3 linked regions of the Homo sapiens genome follow. The protein of the gene in region 3 binds, or shares a complex with, the protein of the main gene of each other region. Each region holds a gene or a part of one and is shown on either strand. Other genes may lie near its edges. The genes, in order: MTA3, HMG20B and HDAC2.

Region 1 (3,649 bases), on a different chromosome or scaffold from region 3:
ACCATATCAGTTTAATTAGAAAGTTAATTACATCGAAATAGAAATCTTGACCTATGAGACCCTATATTCTTTGGCTGTCACTGCCCCTCTCTGACCTCCACTTTCGCTGAAAGCAGGTGGGAGCTCTGCCTTGCTTACTTGGCACAAAGCACAATGGGCTTTTGGCTGTTTCTCCCTGCAACCACCTTAGGAGGACCGTTTATTTGTGTCCGTCCTACCCCTCACCCCTTGCTCTTTTTTCCATATCATTTATCACCTCCAAATATACTTACTGTGTTTATTTTCATTACCTGTCTTCCTAGAGTGTCAGCTGCAGTGATCTTTTCTGTTTTGTCCAGTTATGCATTCTGAGTGCCTTAGAATAGTGGCTGGCACATAGTTAAAGGCATTCACTAAATACTTGTTGAATTAATTAATTTCTGAAATGTCTGATGTTAATGCTTATGTGTACATAGCTTTACTATTTACAAACTGCTTTGATTCATTCATTTTACAAATAAAATTGAGGACCTTCTACCAGCCAGGTACTTTTAGACAGTGAGAATGCAAGGGTGATAAAAAAAAAACAGGTCTAGTGGAGACAGACATCAACCATATAGTCCCACAAGTGAAAGTAAAATTGTAGCTGTGCTAAGTTTAGAAATGTCACAGCATGGTGCTCTGGAAACCTAACCCAGGATTCACGTTTGTTACCCTTTTGAGCCTCACAGAACCTTACACCTTAAGGTAGCTAAATCATGCATTGTTTTCTTGAGGCACATAGTAGCTAAATTATTGGGTTGCACATCTAGGTGAACATAGCTTATTTCACACTCCTTTATCATTTCATGGCCATTCATTTCTGAAATGCCCCCCTCATCCATCCTCACCTCCTCCCTCCGCCTACCTGTTGTCAGCACAGAGTCATCCATGTAATAGCGAGTTTCTGGGACTGGGGTTGTGTTGTGAGAGATGGGATTCTTTGTAATTTCACAAAATGGTAGTTTGAATGGCTAATTGAAATATTTACATAGGGTCTTTATTTCTGAAGGGATGTGAAAAAGACATCTTATTTTAGATAATTCATTAAGCAAATATTATTGAGTACCTGTTTTGTACCAGGCACTATGCTAGGCTCAGAGATAGAATGTGAACAAGATGTACATGGTCTCTACCCATACAGGGTCCACATTCTAATGAGGGAGACACCCGGAAAGACAAGTTGATGGGCATAAAGAAAATAGTAATAGTAATGAATTGTATTAACTTCTAAGAAGGCAAGAACCTTGACATAGAGAATGACAGGTCATTTCCTTTAGGTAGGGTGGAACAGGACATTGAAGTTGAGGCCTAAAGGATGAGGAAGAGGGAACCATGGGAAGAGAGGACGCAGGAGTGTTCTAGATAAAGGCCCTGGGAAGATCAGAGGTGAAATTGGCTAGGTAGGGAAAGTTGTTAACATGATGGGAAAATCCAAATAATGATTTAAAAATACTTGAAGACAGGCATGGTGGCTCAGGCCTGTAGTCCCAGCTGCTCGAGAGGCTGAGGCAGGAGGATTGCTTGAGCCTGGGGGTTTGAGACCAGCCTGTGCAACATAATAAGACCCCCCATCTCTGAAAAAAACCAAAACAAGGCCAGATATGGTGGCTCACGCCTGTAATCCCAGGACTTCGGGAGGCCGAGGTGGGTGGATCACCTGAGAGGAGTCTGAGACTAGCCTGGCCAATGTGGTGAAACCCTGTCTCTACTAAAAGTGCAAAATTAGCCGGGCATGGTGGCGCATGCCTGTAATCCCAGCTACTCGGGAGGCTGAGGCAGGAGAATCGCTTGAACCCATGAGGCGGAAGTTGCAGTGAGCTGAGATCGTGCCATTGCACTCCAGCCTGGGCAACAGTGAAACTCCATCTCAACAAACAAACAAAAAAACCAAAACAAAACCACCTCTAAACTGAAAATACTTACTTTGTTCTGATAGATAAGCTAGGGAAAAAAGGCTACTTGGGAGGCTGAGGCAGGAGGATCGCTTGAACCAGGGAGTTGGAGGTTGCAGTGAGCCGAGATTGTGCCACTGCACTCAAGCCTGGCAACAGAATGGTACTCCATCTAAAAAAAAAAAAAAATATATATATATATATATATATATATATAAAAATGAACTCTTAATTGCTGTAATGCACTTAGTCTCAAACCCTGTACTCATTTCATTAAATGCCATTAACAGTTGCAGACTGGCACTGGGCTGTAGACCCATGAGTAACCATGCTTCAGAAGAATGCTGGAGAGGGTGTGTTTGTAGAGGGGAAGAGGAATATGGTAGCTGTAAGCTACCTAGTAGCTAAGTGAGTGCATGGTCAAGAAGAGACTATTTATTTTGAACTATGCTCCCCGCCCCCTAAGCAGGTTTAAATAAGAATTTAATTAGCTTTGTATAGCATCCCTATTGGAGGAACTCACTAGTGAGGCAGAAAAAAATATGCCTTGAAACTGTTGATTTGGATTTTTTTTTTTTTTTGAGACGGATTGTCACTGTGTCACCCAGGCTGGAGTGCAGTGGTGTGGTCTTGGCTCACTGCAACCTCCACCTCCCAGGTTCAAGCGATTCTCCTGCCTCAGCCTCCCGAGTAGCTGGGACTACAGGTGTGTGCCACCACACCCAGCTAATTTTTGTATTTTTGGTAGAGATGGGGTTTTACTATGTTGGCCAGGCTGGTCTAGAACTCCTGACCTCGTGATCTGCCCACCTTGGACTCCCAAAGTGTTGGGATTACAGGTGTGAGCCACCGCACCCGGCCTGGATTTTTAATGTCTCAAGAAGAGACAAAAATCACATTGAAAATCCAAAGCAGCAGTTTCAAGGCATATCTCAAGAAGACAGAAATGACTAAGAGCTTATATTTGAAGTCATTGATAGATTTTATTTTATTTACATGGAAATTTTGGCCTGTTCATTTAGCAGATTGCTGGATCATTACTTCTGGAGAATGTATTTGATCACAATATTATGAAATATAGAAGCACTTTGGTTAGAAATTTAATATGATTTCAGTTTTAAGGGGCACTGTTTCCACAGGACTATTTCTTAATCTAAAATACGGCTGCTGGACTTCATAAAATTGACAAATTTACTGCAGCACTTATATTCTTCTTTGTATTTGAGTATATCTGTAAGACCAGAGAAATTTCTGAAAATTTGTTCTCACACTTGTTTGAAAATGGAAATCACAATAGCATTTTATTATAATCTGTGTGTTTTTACAGGGAACTTTGTAATGAATGATTGACCTTCTTGAGAGCTCTCAGAATTCTAGAGAATAGGAGAGCAGGAGCCTGGGCCCCAGCTGCAGTAAATGACAGCATAACTGAATTTTTTTTTGAAGCCATCATACTTTGGAAGAACCTAACTGAATATTGTTTGCATTGTAGATTGTAGCCAAAAAGAAATGAGAGTTTCAGTGTTCATAACTCAAGGTTTTTAATATTTTTAGATGTGAAGGTAAACTAAGTACTGCTTAGAATATTGACTCTTAGAGATTCATAGACTTCCTTGGTGTAGAGAATGCTTTTCCAGGTCACCTGGTCTATTCTGCATGATGGCTGCTTCCCACCTGCAGAGCTTCACTGTCCATGGAACATGGGATACTTAGGGGAGGGCTTGGTGATTTTACAC
Region 2 (4,333 bases), on a different chromosome or scaffold from region 3:
ATTCCTAGGAGTGAACTGCTGAATTGCATGGTGATTCCACATTTATTTAACCCTTTGAGGAAATGCCAGTCTGTTTTCCAAAGCAGCTGCATCTGCCTCCTAGACATCTGAAGGATTCAATGAATGTGTATTGAGCATCCACCATGGGCAATGCTGTGAACCAAACAGGCAGGCCACAGGGAGAAGCCGACTTATGGAGGCAAAAAAAAAATCAGAGAAGGCCTGGCTGAGCAAGTGACATTTAAGCGGACTTGAGGAAGAGGAAGTGGGCCGGGCGTGGGGGCTCACGTCTGTAATCCCACCACTTTGGGAGGCCGAGGCGGGTGGATCACGAGGTCAGGAGTTCAAGACCAGCCTGGCCAAGATGGTGAAACCCTGTCTCTACTAAAAATACAAAAATTAGCCGGGCGTGGTGGCAGGCGCGTGTAATCCCAGCTACTCGGGAGGGTGAGGCAGAGAATTGCTTGAACCCGGGAGGCAGAGGTTGCAGTGAGCCGAGATCCAGCCACTGCACTCCACCCTGGACGACAGGGTGAGACTCCGTCTCAAAAACAAAAGAGGAGGTGAGCAGCCCCAACTTGGGCCAGAAGCCTAGACTGCTGCTGGGAGGTCCCTGATCCACCAGAGCGGAGCCTCCTGACCCATCCTCACGAAGTCCTTGCCATCTCCCTTCACCACCATCTTTCCCCAAACACTTCCAGCCCAGCTCCCAACCCCACCCCCTGCCTGACCCACACCCAGTTCTCAGCTTCCCAGCATCCCAGTCTCTCTGTCCTGGATATCGTGTGATGTCCCCGTTGCACAGGGGGGAAAGCCGAGACCCCAGAGGGAGAGCAGCCCCTATGGCCAGAAGCCCTCGGATCCGGACGTCGGGGGCTCTAAACTGAGTAAATACATAGGAAACTTCTCCGCTAGGTTTTGCAGGATGTTAAGAACAGGTCCCACCTTGCCTAGGGCTGGGGACTGCCTCGCAGGACCTTAACCCTAGCAACCCACCTCCGTCCCCATGGCAACCGGGGCGGGGCCCGACCCGGATCCGCCGGTCGCCCCATCCGGCAGCGGCTGGGAGTCTTGCCTTCAGAGAGGGAGGAGGAGTCCGCGCCTCTCCTACTGGCCCTTTAAGAGGCTCCGCCCGGCAAGTCCGCCACTCGCTCCCGATTGGTCCCGAGCGCGGCCGAGCGCAGCCGAACTTGACGCACCGCCCGCAGCCTTCCTTACCAACCTCCCACGCGACTCAGCAACCTCCCCAACCAATCGCCGGCCGGCGCGCCGATCGGTATCTGCATGGGCTCGCCCGGGGGGAAGGTCTCACCCAATGGGACCGTTCGCCGAGGCCTTCATTAGCATGCCGGGGGCGGGGAGGGGCGGGGCGGCCGACGGGGGCGGGCTGCGGGCGGTTGGTTGGAGCGTCGCGCAGTCGGGAGGTCCGGGAAAGTTTCTTTGGAGGTGAAAACAGCCGCGGAACTCCGGGCCCTGAGAGGGGGCGGGGGTGCAGGGGTCCCAGGGCCGGGCCGGGGTCTTTCCTGGCCCGGGGGAAACCGGCCCAGGCCTCCCGGGGGGGGCAATCGCCCAACAAAGGATTCTTGGGGCGCCCGCCCTCGAGGACTTCCCTGCCCCTGGATCCGGCCCCCCCAGCGCTCCGGGCCCGGCATCCCGGGGCTCTCCATCGCGGGGTACCCCAGTTCGCGGTCTGCCATCGGGCAGCCCGGGCGCTACTCACCTCCGCCCGCGTCCGTGTTCCAGGTCCGGCCCGGAGCGGCCATGTCCCACGGCCCCAAGCAGCCCGGCGCGGCCGCCGCGTGAGTGCACTGATCCCCTCCCCACGCCCTCGCTACTTTCCCGGCTGCAGCCCTAGCTCCTGAACCCCTGACCCAGTCCCTCCCGCCGGAGTCTTGACTCCCCCACCTGGGTCAGGGGGCTTCTCCCTCCACCCAATTCTGCACCCCCCACCTCGGCCTCCAGTCCCTCCCAGGAGCCCCGCTTGTCCCACCTTCCCCGGATACTGACCCCATCAGACCCTGCCTCCTCGGGCTCATGCACTCTCGCTGCAGCCCCGCCGTCGGGGGTCAAAACGCCCTGGGGTGGGCTTTTGGGGGAGGGGAGATTCTTGGGACGGGGCTGACCGCGGTATCCTTGGCTCCAGGCCGGCGGGCGGCAAGGCTCCGGGCCAGCATGGGGGCTTCGTGGTGACTGTCAAGCAAGAGCGCGGCGAGGGTCCACGCGCGGGCGAGAAGGGGTCCCACGAGGAGGAGGTGAGAGTCCCTGCGCTGAGCTGGGGGAGGCCCCGGGCTCCCGCCCCAGCCTCGAAGCCCCGCCCCAGGCTGGATTTGAATTGCTTGTGGCTCCGCCCACAGCCCATTTTCCTCTGGAAGCTGAGACCCCGCCCCGTGCCAGCTGCCACGCCCCTGACAGGTCCTCTGCCACTCTAAGTCCAGGCCCCGCCCACCGCACAATGCCAGCTCTGCCCACTCTAAGGTCCCGCCCACTTCCACTCCTTGGGGGCGGCACCCTCCCCTTGGTCCTGTGGGCCCGTTCTCCAGCAGAAAACCACGCCCACCAAGCAGAGGCCACGCCCACAACCGAAGTCAACGCCAACCCTGTACTCAAACCTCGGCCCATAGTTCCTCAGATCCCCTCACCCCTGGCCAGGGATCCCTCTAACCCACCGTGTCCCGACTGCTGACCGGGCCCTACCTCCATCTTTTCCGGGTTCTTCCTCCCAGCTAGGCCCCGCCCCCATCCCCGCCCATACGCGTTAGGCCCCGCCCATGCCCCTCTGAGCCCTGCCCCAGTACGCCAGGCCCCCCTCCCAACGACGCAGCCCGGTTCTGCAGCCGGTGAAGAAACGCGGCTGGCCCAAGGGCAAGAAGCGGAAGAAGATTCTGCCGAATGGGCCCAAGGCACCGGTCACGGGCTACGTGCGCTTCCTGAACGAGCGGCGCGAGCAGATCCGCACGCGCCACCCGGATCTGCCCTTTCCCGAGATCACCAAGATGCTGGGCGCCGAGTGGAGCAAGCTGCAGCCAACGGAAAAGCAGGTGGGCGGGGCGGGGCGCCGAGCAGGGCTGGCGGGGTCCACGGACTACCCCCCAGTAGCCCCGACCCCCAAAGGATTCCACGTGCAGGGTTTTTCCTTCTTCCTGGAGAAATGCCCACCCATAACCAACTTTTTTTTTTTTTTTTTTTGTGAGATGGAGTCTTGCTCTGTTGCCCAGGCTGGAGTGCAGTGGCGTGATCTCAGCTCACTGCAACCTCCGCCTCCCGGCTTCAAGCAATTCTCCTGTCTCAGCCTCTCAGGTAGCTGGGATTACAGGCGCGTGCTACCATGCCCTGCTAATTTTTGTATTTTTAGTAGAAATGGGGTTTCGCCATGTTGGCCAGGCTGGTCTCGAACTCTTGACCTCAAATGATCCGCCCACCTCAGCCTCCCAAAGTATTGATATTAAAGGCGTTAGCCACCGTGGCCAGCCCATGACCAGCTTTTGGGGGCGCGGCTAGCAAGAGGCAAGACAGATTGAAAACTGGATGACCAACAAAGATATGTCTAAGAAGTCAGGATGGGGCCTGGATTTTTTGCGAAACCCGATTTTCATATCCTGTTAGTTTAAAAATTGCAAAAACATCACGGAAATGTAACAAAAGCCATCACTGCTTTGCATCCCTGTAAGTGAGATTTCAAAGAGAGAAACGGGTGCGGGAGGGAGTCCAGGCATCCGCATACGCTGGAGGTTGGGTTCCTGCCCATGACTCTGGCGTCCGGGAGTGGTTTGTCAGGGCTGGAGGTGGGGAAGAGTCCGGGGCATGGGAAGTGAGGTGGGAGCTCGGAGGTCCCTGAGCAACAGGCTGAGGAGCCGGTTCTGTCTGCCTGGAGGGAATAGGGAGCTATAGAAGGTTCAGGAGAGGGGAGGGTGCTGTGAAAGCAGAGTGATAAAGACTGGATCCTGGCGTTGGAGGCTTCCCCTGCTTCAAGCCTTCTGGTGCTGCCCCCCAGCGGTACCTGGATGAGGCCGAGAGAGAGAAGCAGCAGTACATGAAGGAGCTGCGGGCGTACCAGCAGTCTGAAGCCTATAAGATGTGCACGGAGAAGATCCAGGAGAAGAAGATCAAGAAAGGTGGGAGGGGTCGGGCGCGGTGGCTCACGCCTGTCATCCCAGCACTTTGGGAGGCCGAGGCGGGTGTATCACCTGAGGTCAGACCAGCCTGGCCAACATAGTGAAACCCTCCCCCTCTACTAAAAATACAAAAATTACCTGGGCGTGGTGGCGGGTGCCTGTAATCCCAGCTACTCGGGAGGCTGAGGCAGGAGAATTGCTTGAACCCGGGAGGTGGAGGT
Region 3 (3,649 bases):
CCTGGGCCTCCCAAAGTGCTGGGATTACAAGCATGAGCCACCGCGCCTGGCTTGCTATTGTTATGAGGTAAAGGTAGATAGATGGGTGAGAGTGGTGCCAGGGGAAGTGTTAAATTTTTGAGTGTTCCTTTAGATGCCAGATGGGTTGTATCTGAGCCTTTTATTGCAGTTTGATGCCTACTAGTGTGAAGACTACTAGGTCATAGTGGATAGAGAAGCAATCTTTTGGAGACCTGATTTTAGCAAGGATACGAATAATATTTGACAACTTTGGGGGGATCTTGATGCCTCTGTAATTTACTCAAGGATAATCTCAAGAAAAATGGCATTAAGTAGATTACAGAAAAAATAGAACTATCATATTGTTATTATTGGCTATTTACATGAGCAATGCGGAGAAATGTTTAGGATTACAGCATTTAGAAGCTTCTCAATTGCTGCATTTCCTCACTGTACCACAAGATGGCAGATACTGCATTTAAAATTTTTTTTTCTGTGTGTTTTCTCTTATAGTCACTTGGTGGCCATGTAACAAGCAGAGCAACATGTATTAACAGATTCTTTTTGAATGCAATATTGGATTAAAAACTTTGAATTAAACTACAATTAAGTTTACTGATTTAGGTTTTCCTATAAGAATTATAACACTAATTTCTAAGTTTTACATCTGCAAAACACAGTAGAGTGTATCTGGTAGTCATTGACTAATTGTGACTTTGCTAGTCAGACAAAATGGAACTGAATATTAGAGCCAGAATAATTTTCTGTTTTGACTGGTGGTAAGAATCAGTTAGTATACAGAATGGGAAAGAATTGAAATTTATTTCTAGGAATTATAGTTATAGTGAAGTTAATATTCAGGGGCATTGGGTGCTTGTTCCACGACTTTTGTTTACTGAACTAAGTACCTAACCCCTTTGGTCTTTGAACACTGCAGAGTTATGATTAGGATTATTAATGAAAAATTCTTTTTTAGTAGAACAAACAGTTAAGGACAGAAGACACCTTGATTAGATTCTGTTATTTGCTCTTTTTATTAAGATTGTTTTTACTCTAAATGTTAAAGAAATGTATAATTATTTCTAAGGTAAAATGAGTAGCAGGATTCTGAATAGGAGATTTTTTTTGGCCAGACCCATTTTGCAGCCAGTGGTTTGTATTTAGGAGTGAGTTGAACAAAGAAGACTCTAATCTGTTTTTGTGTTGTGGATTTTTTATTCTATTGATAAATCAGTAGCTTCCAGCTTCTCTTGTATCCTCTACTAGTCATCTTTTTTGTTTCTTCAGAAATAAACATCCAGGGTCACTTCCCTGCCCTTGCCATATACTTACTAGGATGATGTACAGGTAAAACTTTTAAAGGAAAGTACGGACAGGCAATTCCTAAAGTAAAAGAGAGCACATTATCAAAACTGGCTGTACTTAACAAATACCAACAAAAAGTCATTACACTTCTGGCAACAAATAATGTTTGATTTAAAAAGACAAGAATTTCCCCTTTTGCTCTTATTTTTTAAATATGCTATGTCCTTAAGTGAGAAATGCACTTCAAAAATTTTCTTATTCTGAAGTCTAGCCGGAAAGTTTGAACTTGTGTTGCCTTTGGCTAGACTAGGTGAAATTAAGGGGCTTAAGAGGGCACTGTTGTGTGGCCCTGTGGTAGATAATAGCCCTCCAAGCATGAGGATGGGAGATCTACCATTCACCAGTATTTCCAAAGTTATATTCTTAAAAAGGCTAGATTTCTAATTTCCGTAGAATCTAGGTATGTTCTTTTCAACTCAGCATCTGATAAGAAAGTTTGGGCAAGTAGGTGCGAAAAATTTACTCTAGATACCATTTTCCAGGAAAAAATATAATTCAAGTCCAACGTATTACTAGCTGTCACCTTCCCCAACAATCAAATAAGCATTGTTATTGTCAAACACATTTACTTGTATAGTTCAGTGTTATATGTAATGGACTTAGGTATAATTCCTGTGCTATTCCCTTTTGATGCCAAACACCCTTTTGTAAGCTGTTTTGTTTGAAATCCAAATTTATATGTCTTAAAGTAAATGGCAGCATTGGGCTTTCTTAATGTAATGACTCTTCTGCCATCCTATTTCTAGAGTTAGGCAGAAAATTCTGTAAATCTATCTTATTTCCAGTCTGTTTGTGACTATGGTGGGCAATAAATCTGATTTCCCAGAAAAACACATCTGGACCCCTATAGGTAAGGTAAACAAGCCTCATCTTAAATTGTTTGTACTTCCGACCTGACCTCAAAACACCATCATCATCTAGAGCAGCAACAAGTAAAGAACAATGCACTGGAAATCACATATATGGGTCTAGCACCAGCCTTTACATTACACAACTTTGCTTTGGGCAAGTCATTTAAATTTCTGTGCTTCAGTTTACTAAATCTATGAAACTGACTAGGTAACAGCTGACATGCTTTTCCAGCACTCCGTCTTTTACCTGTCTGATGTCACAAATTGATCATTCCTTTCTGGCCTTGAGATGCGTATCAACCCAGATAGTCATTAACCCAGATAGTTGGCATTCAGGATAAAATGTTTTTGCCTTTCCTGTCCTGCAAGCTCTTTAAAGTCCAAAATATGCCTTTATATCTTTATGTGTAATAGGTATGAAATCTATTTCTTGGTTGTTGAATAGGATAGGCTTATTAGACATTCTAAAGTCAACTTTTTTCTCATATTTAAACATTTACCCGTAGAAATTCAGTTTTTTAAAGTTTTAAGTCAGTTGATTGTACCAAACATTACTATTAAAAAAAAATCAAAGTCAGAGACCAGAGTTTCCCTGCATCAGCGTTCAGTCAGGAGACAGGAACTATACTAATTTGAACATGTAAAGTTAAATATAATCCTTAATAATAACAGGATTGGAATAAGGGATAAAAGAAAGAGAATTCCTTCTATATATATGTATACACACACATATATATATATACATGTGTATATATGTGTGTGTATGTATATTATATAATATACATACACACACACAAAGAATGTCAGACAAGGAGCAGCCACCATTCTGCTTACTTTCACTGGATTAAGAGTTTCATAAGGGCAAGGGTTTTGTTTGTCTTACACTCCACTGGGGATTAATCTCCAGTGTCTAGAACAGTGCCTAACACATAAATAAAGCCTCAATTATTATTTGTGGAATGGAATGGAATTTGAGTGAAATGGAATGGGAATAGAATGGACTGGAATGGAAATAGAAGTGGGAAGGGGAATGGAAGGGGATAGAAGAGGATTGAAGAGGACAGAAGGAGATGGGATAAGATGGGATGGGATAGGATCGAATCTCAGGTCCAGGAGTCAGAATAACTGAATCCTATTCCAGTTCTGCCATCAACAAGTCCTGTGAAATTTGGAAAGTCACTTAACCCTCTGGCCTTGTAGAATATCTCAGTGGGCATGTCTGATGTTTCTTCATGGTTAGATATAGGTTGCATGTTTTGGGCAAGAATATCACAGGAATGATGCTGTGTTCTCAGTGCACCCAGTCAGGTAATGCATGATTTCAATTTCTCTCATTACTGATGATGTTAACTTTAATCACTTAGTGAATGAGAACATGAGCATCATTTTGAAAGCAAACTGCAAAGTTTTGATGTCAACATTTTAGCAATTAC

The links.
Region 1: HDAC2 (region 3) and MTA3 share a complex: the UniProt entries of both Homo sapiens proteins name them as parts of the nucleosome remodeling and deacetylase (NuRD) repressor complex.
Region 2: HDAC2 (region 3) and HMG20B share a complex: the UniProt entries of both Homo sapiens proteins name them as parts of the BHC histone deacetylase complex.

What each region holds. Positions count from the first base shown.
Region 1 is NC_000002.12:42,575,005-42,578,653, forward strand, and holds part of MTA3 (metastasis-associated protein MTA3), read left to right. Parts: intron 1-3,649. UniProt on the Homo sapiens protein: Acts as a component of the histone deacetylase NuRD complex which participates in the remodeling of chromatin.
Region 2 is NC_000019.10:3,571,549-3,575,881, forward strand, and holds the start of HMG20B (SWI/SNF-related matrix-associated actin-dependent regulator of chromatin subfamily E member 1-related), read left to right. Parts: upstream 1-1,395; 5' UTR 1,396-1,446; exon of another isoform or gene 1,447-1,743; 5' UTR 1,744-1,761; coding exon 1,762-1,799; exon of another isoform or gene 1,800-2,143; coding exon 2,144-2,252; exon of another isoform or gene 2,253-2,269; intron 2,270-2,834; coding exon 2,835-3,038; intron 3,039-3,991; coding exon 3,992-4,112; intron 4,113-4,333. UniProt on the Homo sapiens protein: Required for correct progression through G2 phase of the cell cycle and entry into mitosis. Required for RCOR1/CoREST mediated repression of neuronal specific gene promoters.
Region 3 is NC_000006.12:113,933,113-113,936,761, reverse strand, and holds part of HDAC2 (histone deacetylase 2), read left to right. Parts: 3' UTR 1-3,649. UniProt on the Homo sapiens protein: Histone deacetylase that catalyzes the deacetylation of lysine residues on the N-terminal part of the core histones (H2A, H2B, H3 and H4).